Regions from separate parts of the Homo sapiens genome. Here region 1 is linked to region 2. Evidence: fine-mapped expression QTL. A gene starts in region 2. The other region holds a variant in brackets. All regions are shown on one strand. Distances are from middle to middle. Region 1 holds the start of SNED1-AS1 (SNED1 antisense RNA 1). Region 2 holds the start of SNED1 (sushi, nidogen and EGF like domains 1).

Region 1 (8,321 bases), 65 kb before region 2:
CCGGGCCTGGTCTGGGCAACGCTGTCTTAGGAGGACAGACATACAGAACTCCCAGCAACTGCAGGGAAGGGGCCACTTGTGAGCTCCGCTTCCCGCCCAGCCAGTCTCCTCCGAAGCTCCAGTGCCACTGCTGATGCACCAGGCAGAGCCCAGAGGGCAGCGCTCAGCTCCCGGCAACTCAGCACCCCGGTCTGTGGACAGCGGTCCCTTCCACCCACCATGGCTGGCTGGAGCCCCAACTCTGCAGCGGGCAGGGCGGGCTCTGTCTTCACTCCAGATACCTTCCGAGGGCAGATCTCACATGGGGCGGCCTTGCAGGTGCTTCTTCCTAAAACAGCCCAGGCGAGCCACCCCTACTCAGCCCCTGGCAGCTCCTGCTGACACCTGCTCAGTGCCACCCGCACATGCGCCCAGGCTCTCCACTGGCCGAGGTGTGCTCTGTGTCCTTGCTGTGTTGGGAACTCCAGCCCCTTGGTGGTCAACTCCTGCAGGACAGGCCCTTGTGGGCCTCTGGGTGGGCTCAAGCTGCCTTGAATGCCTTCTCCTGTCCCTCAATGCCCTTGGCATTGGCATCAAGCTAGGGCCCAGGTGTGGCCAGGAGGCTTTCCTCCTGTGAGAACCGCCGAGCTCCTCCCCACCTACCCGCCATGCTACCCATAGGTTTCACCAAACTCACGTGGCCGCCCCGCAGGGCCCTGCTGGATGCTTAGGCCTCCCTGAAGCCCTGGCCACCCACCCACCCATCCATCCATCACGCCACTTCGCAGCAGTCTGTGCTCTCAGCACCTTTTCCTCTTTCCTCGAGCCTCTAGCACCCCTTCCCCATTCTTGCTCCTGTGTCTGGAGGCCACAGGCATGTTGGGTGAGAGTCCCATGGCCCCATGGCCCTGCACCCCACTTGGTTCCTGCCCAGCCTGTTCCGAGATCCCCTGTGCTCTAGCTGATGCGGCCGGGCTCCGTGGAAGGCCAGCCCTCTGCTTTCTTCCGGCCCTGCCCCTGTCCGTCCACTGCCATGTTCTAGGGCTCCTTTCTCCTTCCCAGAATCCCTCCCAGCAGCACACAAGCCCGCTAAGCCCTGACGCCTTCCCTAGAGCGCTCAGCATCTTCTGCTCCCCGACACGGCAACAACCCCACAGGCTGTGCACAACCCGGGCCTCCCCTGCAATCTTGGTGGCTCAGGCTCTGAGGAGGCTCCTCCTAGGACCCCCTCTTCAGGGGTCACATCTGGTCACAGCTTTCAGTGCCAGCTCCAGGTGGAGGCTCTGGGTCTGTCATTCCATCTAGGGCCTGCCCCACGGCTCTTCCCGATTGAGCCACCGATGCCTCCCCTTAGCACACCTCAGCGCCTACATATCCCTGTGAGCAGGTGCCTCTTTCAAACTCTCCCCAGGCCTTCAGAGCACCCCAGAGTCCCAGCCCCCCCAAGCCCACCCCCGCGGCCCCTGTCTCCCACACTGGCTCCTTCTAGGGACCCTTTTGGGAAGCCCCCATTCCTCCCCAGTCCCACTTCCTAGCTCCATGCCTGGGGGTTGTGCTGCTCCCACTCTTGGCTCGATTCTATGCGCCCCAATCCCATGCCTGTATCTTGTGGACCCAAGGCCACTCCCACACAGCTCTGTCTCCAGCAGGGCGGTGCCTCCAACCCCCAGCTCAGCTGTCTGTCTTGCTGCTGCAAGAACTAGGAGGGTGGACGGCATGACAGCCGCCCTGCAGGTGCCGGGGCCAGCGCTGCCCTCGAGGGGCAGGGGCTGGGCAGGGACGGCCAGGCTCGGGGACACTCACGCGTGCGGGCCAGCAGCACGGCAGGCCTGCTGATGTCATTCTTGTTGTTACTGTTTCGCTTCACTGAGAAGACGGAGATGTTGTAGGCCCTGCCGGCCGCCAGGGCCTGGAGCTGGTGCGAGGAGCGGGTCCTGTCCACAAAGTCTGTGCGGCGGTAGGAGCCGTCGGAGGAGACGTAGGTGACCGCGTAGCCATCAAGCATCTGCCTGGCGGCTGGACCATTGGGCGGGTTCCAGGAGATAGAGACCCCACTCTCCTCCACTCTCTCCATCTTGAGGGCCGTCGGTGGGAAGAGCTCTTCAGGGTTTGGGTCAAAACAAGGGGAGGGGACTGGTCAGCCGTTAGCTATGCATGCCTGGCTCCCGTCGGCGGCTCAGCCGGGTCTGGCTCTTGGGCCTGACACAGCCATCGCTGGCAGAGTCCTTCTTTGTCCCTGGCCACGTACCTCCAGGAGGGTCACACTTTTGAATGTGTGACCGTGTTTCAAGCCCACCGGGGGATTTTATCCCCTCCCTGTTCCTCAGGGAAGGGGCCTGGGCAAGCAGCGGCCAGACGCTCTGCCCTTGGAGACCGTTGGGCCCTCTAGGGAGAGGGGACCCCCTCGTGGCTCCCTCACTGGAGGCGCCCTCGCCACCCACCTTTGGCGCAGTCCTCGCCCGTGTAGCCCACTTTGCAGGTGCAGCTGTGGGAGCCGTTGCTGGCCAGGCAATAGCCACGGCCCCCACAGGGGCTGGAGAAGCAGGGGTCACTCACTGAGGGGAGAAAAAGTGGCAGTGTATGTTGGGGCGTGGCCAGGGGTCCCTGCTCCAGCCCCGCCCTTGCTCCTGGGGCACTGGGTCCCTCCTGCGTGGGTGTGGAGGGGCGGGGGGCACAGGACAGCTACTGCCTCCCTTCGGTTCTGCCACCTCCACTGCCCTGCGGGGCCCAACCCAGCAGCTCCTCCACCCTCCACAGCGGAGTGCCACCAGCCGGACTGGCTGAGGGGAGGAGACACTGGATCAGGACAGGACAGGCCACCACCCCAGTGACAGTCCTGCTTGAGGAGGGGAGGTCAGTGGTCAGGGAAGCCTCATCAGGAGGTATCCCACTGGGGGCTGATTAGGGAGAATGTTCCAGATGGAAGGACAGCCAGGGGCCAGACCTGGGTGTGCAAGAAACTTGGCCTGTCCAAGGGCAGCAGGGCCTATGTGTGGACGTGAGGCCCCACCCCTGGGTGTGTCCTCGGGTGAAGAGGGGTGTCTGGGGGGTGAGCGCAGGAGATGGGGAGGTTTAGAAGGCACCATTGTGGGACCAAGGGAGACAGGCGGAGGGCCACTGGCCTGAGAAGGGG[A/C]CTTCCAAGGCGGCGGGCAGAGGGCGGGGAGCAGGCGGGCAGAGGGCGGGGAGCAGGCGGGCAGAGGGCGGGCAGCAGGCGGGCAGAGGGCGGGGAGCAGGCGGGCAGAGGGCGGGGAGCAGGCAGGCCTGCCGCCCTACCTGTCTCGCAGTGGTAGCCGAAGAAGCTCTCTGGGCAGACGCACAGGTAGGCCCCGCCGCCGCTCTCACACCGGCCTCCATGCTGGCAGGGGCTGGAGTCGCAGGCGTCCACCTCTGGAGAACACCCAGAGAGTGGGCCCAAGCTGCAAGGGGGGAGTCTGGGGGAGGGAGGAGAGGACAGCGGGAAGAAGGGAAAGGAGGAGTCTAGGGGCGGAGGCCAGGAGAGAGGGGCAGTGGGCAGGTCCCGCCCCTCAGCCCTCCCCAGCACCCTCACCTCCACCCCTCCCTCCCAAGGTGGCCGCAGCCCTGGGGGTCCCTCTCCCCAGGTGGCCTGCCCAGCAGGGAATGTGGGGATGCCCCACCTCCTCTCTGATCTTCCAGAGGCCCAGGCTCTGCATGTGGGGCCCACTGGAGGGAGCCCCTACCTGTCTCACAGTGGACTCCAACGAAGCCTGCAGGGCACCGGCAGACATAGGCCCCTGGGAGGTTCCTGCAGGACCCTCCATTTCTGCACGGGTGAGCTCGGCACTCATCCCTCTCTGCACAGAGAAGGGGTGTCAAGGGTGTTGCTGGCTCAAGTCTGAGGCGCCCACATGCCCCCAGGATTCCGTGCATTTCCTGGGGCTTCAGTTACCCCTTTCCCAGCTGGGAGCAACTACTCAGGACATGTGCTTTTTCTTCCATCAGCCCCAAACCCACCCCTCCTCGGGAGGCGTGCCACCTCCACTGCCTGCTGGCAAAGCCCCACCTCCAGGCCATGCCTTCCTCCAGGCCACTCCGCAATGGGAGGCTCCCCAGGGCCACGACTGGGCACGGCTCCCTGGGCCTTGCCCTCCCTGGAGCCTGCGTTTCTCAGGCTTAGAGCCCTAGCGAGGTACAAGAGTGTGCAGGGCTCATGGGGCAGGCCTCCCCTCCCTCCACTGGCTGGAAGCACCGACCAGGTGTCAGAGACTGTGACCTGCCCTCTCCGACGCCCACCTTCTCTGCGCCCTGAAGCCAGGCCAGCATTTCTCAGCTGGGCTCTCAGTCTCCCCTGGGGAGGTGCAGGAAGGGATATTTGTAAAATCTTTGTCTTGGATGTCAGAGCTGGCAGGGGCCCGAGAAAGCATGCAGTGGCCACCCTGGCCATCCAGACAGAGACCTGTCCGGGGGACCCAGTGCCTCAGGCACATGGCCAGTGTGCTGCAGCTGTCACCCCAGCGGGGCCAGGGCCCCTCTTACCCAGCTCACAGTGGGCGCCCTCATAGCCTGTGCTGCAGAGGCACAGGTACCCAGCAACGCGGTCCTGACAAGAGCCCCCATGCAGGCACGGCTGAGACCGGCACTCATCGATTTCTGAGAGGAGAGAGCCCAAGAATAAAGCAATGTGGCCACGATTAAGCCAAATTAAGATGCACATAAACTAGTCCTGAGGGGCCAGACAGAATTCGATGATACATCATCAGTGGTTGGAAAGGCCAGAGACCAGGGCTGGATATCCTTGGAGTCGGGGCAGGGCAGTGGGCCTGGGGCTCAGTGCCTGGCTGTGTCTGTGAAGCAGCAGGGCGGGCTTGAAACCACCCCAGGGCTCCCAGAAGACGCTGTGGGACTTAATTCCAGTGGTTCAGGCCGACAGGACAAAGGCCTCAGGGGTTTGACAGAAAATGTCTCATGTCCCATCTTGCCATTTCAATGTATAATAGTCACCTGTGAAACCAGTCCATCTGGGACAAATCTTGGTTTTAAATGATTCACCACAGCTTTCTTTTCAAGCGGGAGTTGTGCTCCTGAATTTAAATATTTATTTTTTTAAAGTTTAATTTCATGCTTAAAAAGTAAATAAATGGTAATGACTTAGTGACATCTGGGACTAGCAGCCACCCCGGCAGCCAGAATGCTGAATGGGCTCATCCGACCGTGTACCCTTCTCTTCCCTTGCGATAAGAATCTCTGGGTTTATAATTTCCTTGTCTTTAAAAACTAGGTTTTCTGGCAGTAAAATATGTAATTAAAATTAGCTTAAAAATTTTATAAATTGCCTAAACAATAGTGAATGTTTTTGTTGTTTATGAACTTTATTCATAGTACATCATGATATATATTGTCTTCTCTCAGCATTATATGAAGAAGAGAACTCCACACTGTAGGTCACTGTGGTTCATAGATTTTCACTGCTGAATAACATTACACAGTGTGGTTATATCATACTTCACCCATTCTCACTGGCTGGGTCTTTGGGTTGGTTCTAGACTTTTTCCTTTTTTTGTTTTCTTTTTTTCTTTTTTTTTTTTTGGGGGGATGGAGTTTCGCTCGTTGCCCAGGCTGGAGTGCAGTGGCATGATCTTGGCTCACCACAACCTCCGCCTCCCGAGTAGCTGGGACTAAAGGCGCCCACCACCATGCCCGACTAATTTTTGTATTTTTAGTAGAGATGGGGTTTCACTATGTTGGCCAGGCTGGTCTCGAACTCCTGACTTCGTGATCCGCCTGCCTCAGCCTCCCAAAGTGCTGGGATTACAGGCATGAGTCTACGCCCAGCCTAGACTTTTTGCTTTTACAAAAAATGTTGCTGTGTATATTCTTTCCCATCTCCTGGTGCAGACGTGAAGTTTTTCTTAGGTTTATACCCAGAAGTGCAATTGCTGGAACACAGTTGACGTAAATGAGCAACAGTGGGCAGATTGCTCAACAGGCAGAGTGCCACATTGTTTTCAAAGTGCTTCTAGCAATTTATACTCTTGCCAGCAATGCATAAGAAATCTTGTTGATCCACATTCTCACCGGTATAGGCTTTTCAGACTTCTGAAAATTTACCAGCTGAATGTACCTCATTGCACTTTTGATTTGCATTTCCCTGATTACTAATGAAATAGAATATTTCTTTTTATGTTTGTTGGCCTTTTGTATCTCTTCTTCCATGAAATGCCTATGCATGTTTTTTTTTCTATTTTCCTATTAGGTTGTTTTCTCATTGATTTATCAGAGTTCTTCATGTAGTCTTGAGACTATTTATCTCTTCTCCCAGTTTGTAGTTTAGATTTCACTTTCTTAAGGTTTATGGATTTAGGTTCTAATTTTCATATGGTCAAGTATGTTCATCATTTCTTTTTAAATTCTTTTTGTGGCTTAAGGAGTCTTTCACTACCCCAAAGTCAAAAATATATTTACCTATATTTTCCACACAAAATTATATAGTTTTTTTTGGTTGTTTTTTTTTGAGACAGGGTCTCACCCTGTCCCCCAAGCTGGAATGCAGCGGTGCAATCACAGTTCACTGCAGCTTTGAACTCCGGTTTCAAGTGATCTTCCCACCCTAGCCTCCTGAGTAGCTGGGACTACAGGTGCATGCCACTACGCCTGGTTAATTTTAGTTTATTTTTGTAGAGTTGGGGGTCTCTCTATGCTGCACAGGCTGGGCTCAAACAAAACTCCTGTCTTGGCCTCCCAAAGTGCTGGGATTATAGGCATGAGCCATGTGCCCGGCCCTGTATAGTTTTTTTTTAAAGAAACATTTAGGTCTTTAATCCACCTGGATTTAATTCCAGTGTATGAAAAATAGAGAACCAATATAATATTTTTCCAAGTACAAAACCATTGTATTCCAGCTCTCATGAATATTTTCTCATATGCTTTTGTATTTCTTTCTTTTAGAAGTTTATAGTTAGGGACGGGCATGGTGGCTCGCGCCTGTAATCCAGCACTTTGGGAGCCCAAGGCGGGTGGATCACCAGAGGTCAGGAGTTCAAGACCAGCCTGGCCAACATGGTGAAACCCCGTCTCTATTAGGAATACAAAAATTAGCTGGGTATGGTGGTGAGTGCCTGTAATCCCAGCTACTTGGGAGACTGAGGCAGGAGAATCGCTTGAACCAGGGAGGCGGAGGTTGCAGTGAGCCGAGATTGTGCCACTGCACTCCAGCCTGGGCAAGAGTGAGATTCTGTCTCAAAAAAAAAAAAAAAGTTTATAGTTTTAGCTTTTACATTTATGTTTATAGTTCCTTTTACGCATTTAAAAATTTATCATGTTTTTGATGCTATTAATGTAACACTTTCATTTCAAAGTGTTCACTGCTACAACAGGTTCTATATACTGACCCTGTATCCTGGGATCTAGTTGAATTCACTTGTTAGTTCTATAGCTTCTTTTGTAGAATTTCCTTAGGATTTTCTATGCATACAATCATGTGATCTCTAATTCTTTCTTCCTTTCCTTCCTTTTATTTCCTTTTCTTGTCATCTGGCACTGTCTAGGGCCTCCAGGAAAATGCTGGGAATACGTACTGAATGGACACCTTGCCTTGTACGGATTCCAGGTGGAGTCTTTCACCACTGAGTACACTGGTAGCTGAGGTTTTTAATGGATGTCCTTTATCAGGTTGAGGAAATTATCTTCTACTCTTAGTTGACTAAGAATTTTAAATACCAGTTGAATTTGTCAAATAATTTCCTGCATCTATTGAGATATATAGTTTTCTCTTTCATCTCCTAATATGATGAAGTACATTGATTGACATTAAAAGTTAGACCAACCTGTGTCCTTGAGAAAAATCCCACTTGGTCATGACTGTATCATTCTTTTATATAGTACTGAGCTTGACTTAGTAATATTTTGTTTGGATTGTTGTGTCTATGTTCTTGAGAGATACCAGTCTGTAACTTCAAATTTTGTAGTGTCTGTGTCTGGTTTTGGTATCAAGGTGAGTTGAGAAGTTATCAAATAAGTTGGGTATCAATTGAGTTTGGTATCAAATGAGAAGTGTTCTTCCCTCCTAGATTTTCTAAAAAATATGTAGCTCTTTCTAAAAGAGGTTGTACAAAGTTGGTATCATTCCTTTCTTAAACATTTGGTAGAATTCATCCGTGAAGCAATCTGACACAGCTGTTCTGAGGAAGGTTTTTAATTACAAATTAAGTGTAACAGATATAAGGCTGTATATGTTTTCTATTATTCTTGTGTCAGTTCTGGTAATTTGTCTTTCAGGGTATCCATTTCCCCTAAGTTGTCAGATACATTGGCCTAAAATTGCTCATAGGTGTTCTCTTGTCCTTTAAGTACTGGCAGGATCTTTAATGTTTAAAGGACTCCACTGT
Region 2 (8,321 bases):
TCTGAGCCTCGGTTTCCTCATCTGCACTGGGCATGACGTCCTGCTCCATCCTCTCAGGGGCTGCCTGTGAGGTCCAGGCAGATCACAGCTGTCCTGGGCTCATGGCCTTGACCTGGAGTCATCAGGCTCTCTCACTCCAGCATCCTCCTCGACTCCAGCCCCATTCCACTTCCCCAGGATCCCCTTCCATCTGCTTCCGTCACACCCAGGCAGCAGCAAGAAGGGCATGCTGATGAGGGGCAGGACCACCTTGGCCAAGCCCATAGCAGGGGGTGGGCCAGCCCGGGAACCTCAGTGAATAGGGCAGCCAAGGGGAAGCCCAGGACCCTCCTCCCAGCCAAGGGGCTCCTGCATTTGCTGGGGTGTTCCATGAGCTCAGAAGAGAGCAGAGATGGCAGTGATTTCTCCCCACATGTCTGCTCCCAGATCCACTCATGCGCAGGCCTCGGTCCCACTGAGACAGTCCCTGTGGGTCAGGGTGGATTTTCCAGATGGCTTGGAGCTGGCGACCACACAACCGTGACAGTGATGGGGTGTGTCACAGGTATGACCTGATGGGGGAGCTTCACCACACAGATGGGGAGACAGAGGCTCAGGGAGGAAATGACCAGGCAAAGGTCACAGGCTGCATGTGAACTCCCACACCAGAGCAGCTGCCCTGGGCTCCGTGTTCTGGGAGGGGTAGGGCCGGGACTGTGCCTGGATGGTAATGTTGTGCAGAGCCAGAGCCAGCAGACTTGCGGTGTGGCACGAAGCCTCAGGGCACAGAGTGGGGGTTTAGCCAGCACCAGCGAGGGTCAGTCTGACTGTCCACATTCCTCCTTCTTGCCTGCGGGCTCTGCAGGGCACCACCCACTCTTGACCCTCAAATCCTCCCTGCCTCTGCTCAGGGCTCTGTCGGGGGTCCTGATGCCAAAGAAACTGAGATCCTCCCATGGCCCAGAGACCATGCTGTGGATGGGGGCAGTGCTTGGAGCCAGGAGCTTCAGTGTAGGGGGCACCAGGAAGATTTCGTCTCTCATTCCCTGCACCTGCCCCTAGGAAACCACTCCACCTGCATAAGCCCCACAGACCGCGGCAAGCTCCGTCTTAATGCAGACACTGGCAGTTCCTGCATGGCAGGATAGCGGCAGCATGCCACACTCCTCAGCACGCCACACTCCTCGGCGCGCCACGCTCCTCGGCTGCATTATCTTTGTCTGTGTGTAGAACCTTAGCAATAAAATGCACTTTCAACACTTTTCAGAGCCTTACGACTTACCACACACATACAGCTACTATGACATGAGAAAGAAGCAAAACAATGGGTCCCTTCTGGAAAGGGGGCCACTCCATGTGTGGCAGAGCTGTCTTGCTAGGGCAGTAATCCATGTGCTATTTCTGATGAAGACAGAAGAAGCACCCATCTCATGCAAGAGCACTTCTAATTTCTACCTGTGACTTGCAGGCAGTGTCAGAGGGAGGCACATTCATTCATTCAGACAACAAGCCTACTCTTGGTCAAGCGACAGGCTGGGGGCGGAGGAGCGCAGAGGTCACTGCAGTGGGATGGGGGCTGGAGGGTCCTGGCTGGGCCTGACATGGGAGTCTGAGTCCAGGGCCAGCAGACACGAGGCCCCTATAGACTGGAGCTGGACAAGGGCCAGAGCCAGGGGCCTCAGAAGAGGGTCCGCTCGGCCTGGGTGGGCGTGGGAGGCCCCAGGCAGGTCCACTTCCTTCAGAACAAATGCCTCCCTTCTTTCCACCTGGCTTCAGCCCTAACCTGCTGCCAAGCACCCCTTTCTCTCTCCCTGCTTGACCACAGAGTCCGCACAGTTACTTCAGGCAAGGTGTCCTGGGCAACGCAGCCTCAAGCCTCCTGCTGAGCAAACAGAAAGGTGAAGTGCACTGCAGGCACTGTGTCCACATCGGCAAATGGTTTTCAAATAATATCTTTGTTTCAGGAAAAAGCTCCGATGGAGATAAATGTTTTGTTAGCAGCCAGAAGGTTCATTTCTGACGAAACCCTAGTTCTCCTAGCAGATCTTCCCACGTTAGAGCTGTTTCCCCTAGTTGCTCTGGCAAGGGCAGATGTTTTTGGTGAGGCTGTTAAGTGGGTTAACCATTTTAATAATATTTTCACCTGTGACTGTGAGTGGGAAAGCTGAGCCTGGCCCAAATGCTTAAGGAGCCTCTTGAGTTCTGTTCGGATGGTGCCAATGTGAGTGTCCCATACCTCAAGTGGACAGGCCTCCTCCAGCTCGGGCCAACGCTGAGCACCATTCTGTCCTACCCACTTCGTACTTCCAGGAGTCAGTCCCGTTCCTCTGTCCAAGTCCCGGTCCAGAGGGACTTTCAGGGGGTAGCACCGACAGCATGGCTGCCCCTCCCACCAGTCAGGTCACCCAGTGCTGCCACCGAGGTGGGGAGGCCTTCCTGAGCAGGTGTGGAAAACGCAGTGGGCGCTGTGGATGGTGTTGGCAGTTGTGGGGTGGGAGGCGCACTAGAGGGCATGTGGTGGAGGAGGCCCTGTGGATGGAGGTGGGGAGGGATGATGACAACCATGCAGAGGATGTGGATGGTGACGACGGGAAGCTGGGGACCATGGGGAAGGTGGTGGTGGAGGCAGTGCTGCTGGTGGTGGGGTTGAAGGAGGTGGTGTTGACGGAGGAGTTGGCAGTACAGGTGGTGTTACTCCGGGCAGCACAGATGGCAGAGGCGATGTGGCTGGCAGTGGGTTGAGGCTGGAGGTGGGCGAGGGTATGAGAGGGCTGATGGTGGAGGTGGCCGTGGTGACGGAGCTGGAGGGGACTCTACTTGAGGCTGGCCCAGCAGTTTTCTAGATATGATCTGGGGTGTTTCAGGGAACCACCAGGTACCAGTGCACCGTGGCCTACTCAGGGCGAGTGCTCCATGCAGTTACCAGGTGCATTTCATTCCCTGGGCTGCCATAAGGGCTTGGCCTGGGGTCACACTCTGGGAGCCATGGAGACAGAACCGGCACTCGGGCCTGTTCCTTCAGCTGAGCTGAGCCTGCTGTCATGAGTCCCTGGCCCCAGGAGTCCCACTGGGAGTCCTGTTTGGAGAGTCTGAGCCTGAGCGGCCAGCCCCCAGACTGCGGAGAGGACGGCAGGGAGGGGCAAGCCTGTTGCTAGCCCGCCTAGGAGGGTCAGCGAAGAAGCAGGCCCTGCCCTGAGCGCCTGGGCAAGGGGTCCAGCCTCCTGGCTCTGGGCCGCACTGGCGTCCACGGGGGGCGGGGCTGAAATGGCCCAAGGAGGGGCTGCAACCTTCGCAGGCCCGGCGCCCCACTTGGGAAACTGAGGCCCGGGAAGCCCGTGCCCACGGCCACATTGCCATGTGTGAAAACCAGGGCAGTACCAGGACCCCTGCTCTCCCCTGGGAATCAGGCGCCGGGAAGACGCGCTCGGCAGGTCTGGCAGGGGCCGGGGCGCCGCGCTCCACTCGCCCCCGCCTCGGTGCCCGGCGGCTGCCGCCCCCGCCCCGCCCGCGCGCCTCTCCCGCGGGCCGCTGTCCGGCCTTGGCCGCCGAGGAGGAAGCGCTGTCCTCATTCCACCTCGGGCCGCCCCGGTGCCAAGTGGCTGGCGGCGGCGGCGGGAGTCCGGGCCCGGCGGGCAGCGGCCGGGGCGCAGCTCCCTCCCCTCCCGGGCGCCCCGCGAGCCCGGGGGTTACTCACGTAGAGTCCGGAGTGCTCGGCACCGAAGAACGGGAAGGGCACCGAGAGCGGCCGCAGCCCCGAGCCGCCGTCGTCCTGCTTGGGGGTGACGGCGTCGCCGCGCTCGGCGCCGAACGGGTAGAAGTCGGCAAGGGCCACCGCGCCGCGCACCCCGCGCGCCCCAAGCCCCAGGGCCGCGGCCACCAGCAGCGCCCAGGCGACGCCGTGCCGCATCGCGGAGGTGTGCGGGCGGGACGGGGCGCTGGCGGAGCAGGGCGCTGGGGGACTAGGCTGCGCGCGGGGGTGGCCGGCAGGGCCAGGCGGGGTGCGGGGAGCGCGGGCGCGCCCGCTGGCCGCGCCGTCGGGGGCTCCGCGTCCCGCGCCCGTTCGGCCGGGCCGCGCTCTCGCCGCAGCTCCGCAGAGGAAAGCGCCGGGCGGGACCGCGTTCGGGGCCAGCCCCGCCCCTGGGGCCACGATTTAAATATCCAGCCCGGCGGTCACTCGGGGGGGCGGGGCCATGCAAATCGGGCGTCTCTTAAAGCGCCAGGCCCCGTGGGAGGGCGCGGGCGCGCGGGGAGCTCAGTCCCCTGGCGTGGGCACAGGCAAGGTGAGGGCTCTGCGGGCGCGCGCCCTGTGGTGGGGCCATGCTCCGCCCTGGGTCCCTACCCTGGTGGAGGCGCCTGGGCCCTCAGTGCCGTCCTGGGACAGACCTGTGTCCCTAAGGCCTGAGACGCTGGGCCCGCCCTGAAGGCGTGTCATCACGCGGGGGGCGGGAGGGGACCCTGGCCAGGCAGTGCCTGAATGAACCCGTTCCGTGCTGCCCCCTTCCCAGCCCTGAGCATGGGGACGCCAGGCTTCCAGCCACAGGGGCAGACTAACCCCGGAGCCCACTCCCTGCCTGGGTCTGTGTGAGGAAGAGCCCGGGCCGGAGACTAGGAGGCATGGAACAAAGTGTTTGCATCTGCGTGGCCGCATCAGGAGAAATTCCTGGGAGGCTCGGGACCTCGGGGCGACCCCTGGGTAAAGCAAACCCTCCGTGGGGAAGACTGACCCACTCAGGCCCTGGGGGCAAGTGCGTGCATGACACCGGCCTTGGCAGGTGGGGGCAGGACTCTGAGTCCCAGTATTTGAATTCAGGGTCCCCACCCTGTGGCCTGCCAGCCCTGCCCCCTGTCTCTTGGGCTGCTGGCCTGGGCTGCCTGTCTGTCCTTCCTCAGGGCCTCAGCCGGGACCACCTCTATGTCCCCAGGCCCATGGCAGGGTCTGATTCCTGGAACTCACCCGGCCCACCGTGGTCTCTTCTCTTAGATCCTGGTGTTGGGTGGTGTTGGCTGCGTGCCACACTGGGGCCCCCAAAGATAAGAGTGCACCCCTCGAAGACAAGCAGGAAAGGCCGGGCTGATGGTAACTGCATCTACCACTGAGGTGCTGGGTGGTTTTTTGTTTGTCTTTGCGTTTGTATCTTCTGAAATATCTCAAGTGAGCACGTGTTGTTTTTCAGTGAGAGCCAGGCACAGTCAATGTTATTTTTAAGAAGCAGCGGAGGGTTCTCTGCGTGTGACTGGGTGTTGCCGGTTCTCACAGATCCTGCACTTGGTGTTTTCACTCAGAGGTTCATGACCCTTTAGACTTGGTGTCAGGGCCGGGTGCAGAATTGTTAAGGAGGAGCTGACCCTGCACTGGCACCTCCTGAAAGCTTGCCCCTGGCGCCTCTCCCACCCTGCATGGGGTGGCAATTCTGTTTGCAGAGAGGCAAACTGGGCCTGGGAGGGGAAGGGCTCTGTCCCGCAGTTAGCCCTTAGGTCACCGTCCCAGCTTTCAGAGCTCCAGGACAGCAGCACAGCCATGGTTCCAGGGCCAGAAAGGTCAAGGCCTCCTGTCTTTGGAGGGAGGCACCAGAGAGGGCGTGGAACTGTAGAATCCCTACTTGAGGCCGGCTCTCGGTGAGAGCCTGGCAAGGAGAGACATGTCTCCACGCACATGCACACACGTCCACGCACACATGCATACTTATTCACATGCACGGAGGCAGCATATGCCCATACGTGGGGCCTCAAGAACATGCTTTAACCCCTTCCTCAGCCCAGCCCTGGCCTCCCTGGTCAGGGAGGGCTGCTCCCACCTCTGGCTGGCACAGGCCGTGGAGTCAGGACAAGGCCCCATGTAGCAGCGTTGGGAACAGAGCTGCCAGGCGTCACCGTGGCGGGAATCAGGGAGAACGCTTTTCTATTTGTCTTTTTTCTAGAAAAACCTGGCAGCCCTCTACCCTCTTTTCAGTGCATTTGGGGCCTGGCTGGAAGGCCCCTCCGGTGAGTTTGCGAAGGTGGGAGGCGGCAGTGCCAACCCCAGGGCAGGATTTCTCCGCTGAAGAGGTGTTGTCATGGGGACGTGAGGCTTTGACCCCCACTAGGGCTGGCCCACCTCCTGCCCTGTCCCTACTACCCATCCACTTCCCACCACATGCTCCTGCTCTGCTCTCAGAGCCCAGCCTGGGGTGCTGCCTCCCAGCCAGCTGCCCAGGCCAGGCGCCCTTCTCCCCACTGCTGACCTTCTCTTGAGCACACAAGACAGGGACCTGGGTAACAACCCATTTCTGGGCTGGGTTTGGGTCAACTTGGGGGCAGGGCCGCCCAGGGCACCTTGGGGCACACAGTGGCACTCAGTGGCTGCACCGAGTGGAGGCCTGTTTCTTCAGGCGGGTGGGCTGGTGGGCCTCACGGGGGTCGCTGAGCAGTGCTGGAAACGCTCAGGCCCGTCCTCGTCCCAGAGAGTCAGAGCTCATGGGCCTGGGGCGTGGCTGGCAGTGGGCCAGACCCTGCTCATGGCCCAGAGAGGCCACACTTCCTCGGGCCTGTACCCTGCTGACCAGCCTCGGCCTGCACCCTGTGCAGATTTTCAGCCGGGCCCGGGGAGCTGGGGGTTAACAAAAGGCCCCGCTGCTGCTGGGCATTACATTTCATTAAAAAAAAAAAAAACAAAAAAAAAACAACACAACTCTGCAGGCAAAAAAGAGAAAAAAAAATGTTTTTCTCAGGTGCTAAAAATATTATCAGGAAATACTTTTCAGCAATGTGCTGTTTTAGGCTCCCCTCTGGACTCAAGGGCGCCTTTGTCTCTGCCACAGAAAATCCACATTTATCAAAACCAAAATTGTTTTATCAAGCAGGCTCATGTTCTGTGGCCAGGAAACCCGAGCCTCCCCAACCGGCCTGTGACATTTTAATTTAGGGCCTGAGCGTGTGTGCAATTTAGATGGGGTGCCCCGGGAGCTGCCCTCAGGATGCCCCAGGACTCGGGGCTCCACGCAGGCCAAGGTGGGGGTGCCCTCCCCAACCTGCACCTGGTTGGCTGGGCCTGTTTGGTCTTCACAGGGTGGAAGATCCTGGGGGTTCAGGCCTGAGCTGCCAGGGGCAGGGGCTGGCTGGCTGTAGCCCACCCTAACTTTCTCTCCTTCTCTCCCAGAAGTGGCAGGTGGAGTGCAGGTCCCCTGCCCCAGAAGCGCTGATCCCAAGTAAACCTCCACATGCTCCGGAATGAGGCCAGGAGGTCACAGGGACCAAGGGCCGCTCCACCTGCTCACCTGGTCACTGTCCTGTGTGGCTGGTTGGGGTCTTGGTGCAGTTGGCCCTGAGGGAGTGTGGGGGCCATGCAGCCTGCCCTGTACCTCCTCTTCTCATGCACACGGAGCCGCACACACATTGACTCCCATGACGGGACTTCTGTGGTTGCTCTTAGGGAAACGATGGGACTGGGGTTCAACACTTCCTTCCCAGGATGTTCACTGCTGCGTGGGCTCAGGCATCGGCTCTCCCTGTCCTGGGGATGACGAGACCCTGCCTCCCGTTGAGAGCCTTGTCCATCTCCTGAGTGCCCAAGACAGGACAGAGCCCCATTCTCTGTGGGCTCCAGGATGGCAGGGACAGCCAGCAGTGGAGGGACACTCAGGCCCAGGGTCCTCCGATGCCCCGGAGCTTCCGCAGCAAAAAAACCATGCTCTGAGACGTTTTTAGTGATTCGGGAAAACTCTAACGGTATTGTGTCAAGCAAAAGTTTTAAAAAATAGTACTCTGAGTAGCATCCACGCTATGGCCTCAACCGTCCTAAGCACACGTGTGCTAGAAAAAGGGAGAGTTGGGTGTCACCTCGGGGCTCTGCAGGTCACAGATTATGGTGGTGGTTACATTCTCCTTTCTATGTTTCCCTGCTAACATTTTTTGCAATTAATTTGAAAAGTATGAATGTTTTGGAAGCCCAGATAAACAATGCCCTTGGTTCCAGCTGGCCGGCTTCCTGCCCCGGCTTCAGCCAACCAAAGCTTGTGCTTCCCTCAACCTGGGGTGCTTCAGAGGGCTGGCCTGTCCTTGGGTGCCGCCGTCTGCGTTCAACATGGCCCCTCCTCCAGTGCCCCCTCCCCAGGGGGCCTTCCTCTCCCATTTGTCCCCTCCCTGTGTTGGTCTGCAACCCCTGGATGCCTGCAAAGGGTGCTGCCCCCGGACCCAGGCACCTGAGGGCCTGTCAGAGCGTCGGAGCTTCCTGGCCAGAGGCTGGATGGGACCCTCCAACAGCCCCTGCGTGCCCCACATTCCTCGGCGAGCCTCAAGGGTGGCAGGAATCCGAAGGGATTTTGTGTTCTGTCTCAGACAGGAGCTGGGCCCCTGCCTGCATCCCT

Evidence for each region. PIP is the estimated chance that this variant, and not a neighbour inherited with it, causes the effect.
Region 1: its variant is fine-mapped to the expression of SNED1 in whole blood (TOPMed, PIP 0.98).

What each region holds. Positions count from the first base shown.
Region 1 is chr2:241,059,057-241,067,377 of GRCh38, reverse strand. It overlaps SNED1 (sushi, nidogen and EGF like domains 1), which reads right to left. Exons shown (of 32, transcript NM_001080437.3): 17 at 4,474-4,587; 18 at 3,678-3,791; 19 at 3,253-3,366; 20 at 2,421-2,534; 21 at 1,783-2,079. It overlaps SNED1-AS1 (SNED1 antisense RNA 1), which reads left to right and starts at 3,260. Exons shown (of 3, transcript NR_187212.1): 1 at 3,260-3,298. It also overlaps a transcript of MTERF4 not described here. RefSeq lists a silencer at 3,152-3,311. The variant A/C (reference allele first, on the strand shown) is at 3,113.
Region 2 is chr2:240,994,403-241,002,723 of GRCh38, reverse strand. It overlaps SNED1 (sushi, nidogen and EGF like domains 1), which reads right to left and starts at 4,106. Exons shown (of 32, transcript NM_001080437.3): 1 at 3,674-4,106. The coding sequence starts at 3,886. RefSeq lists a silencer at 4,055-4,474.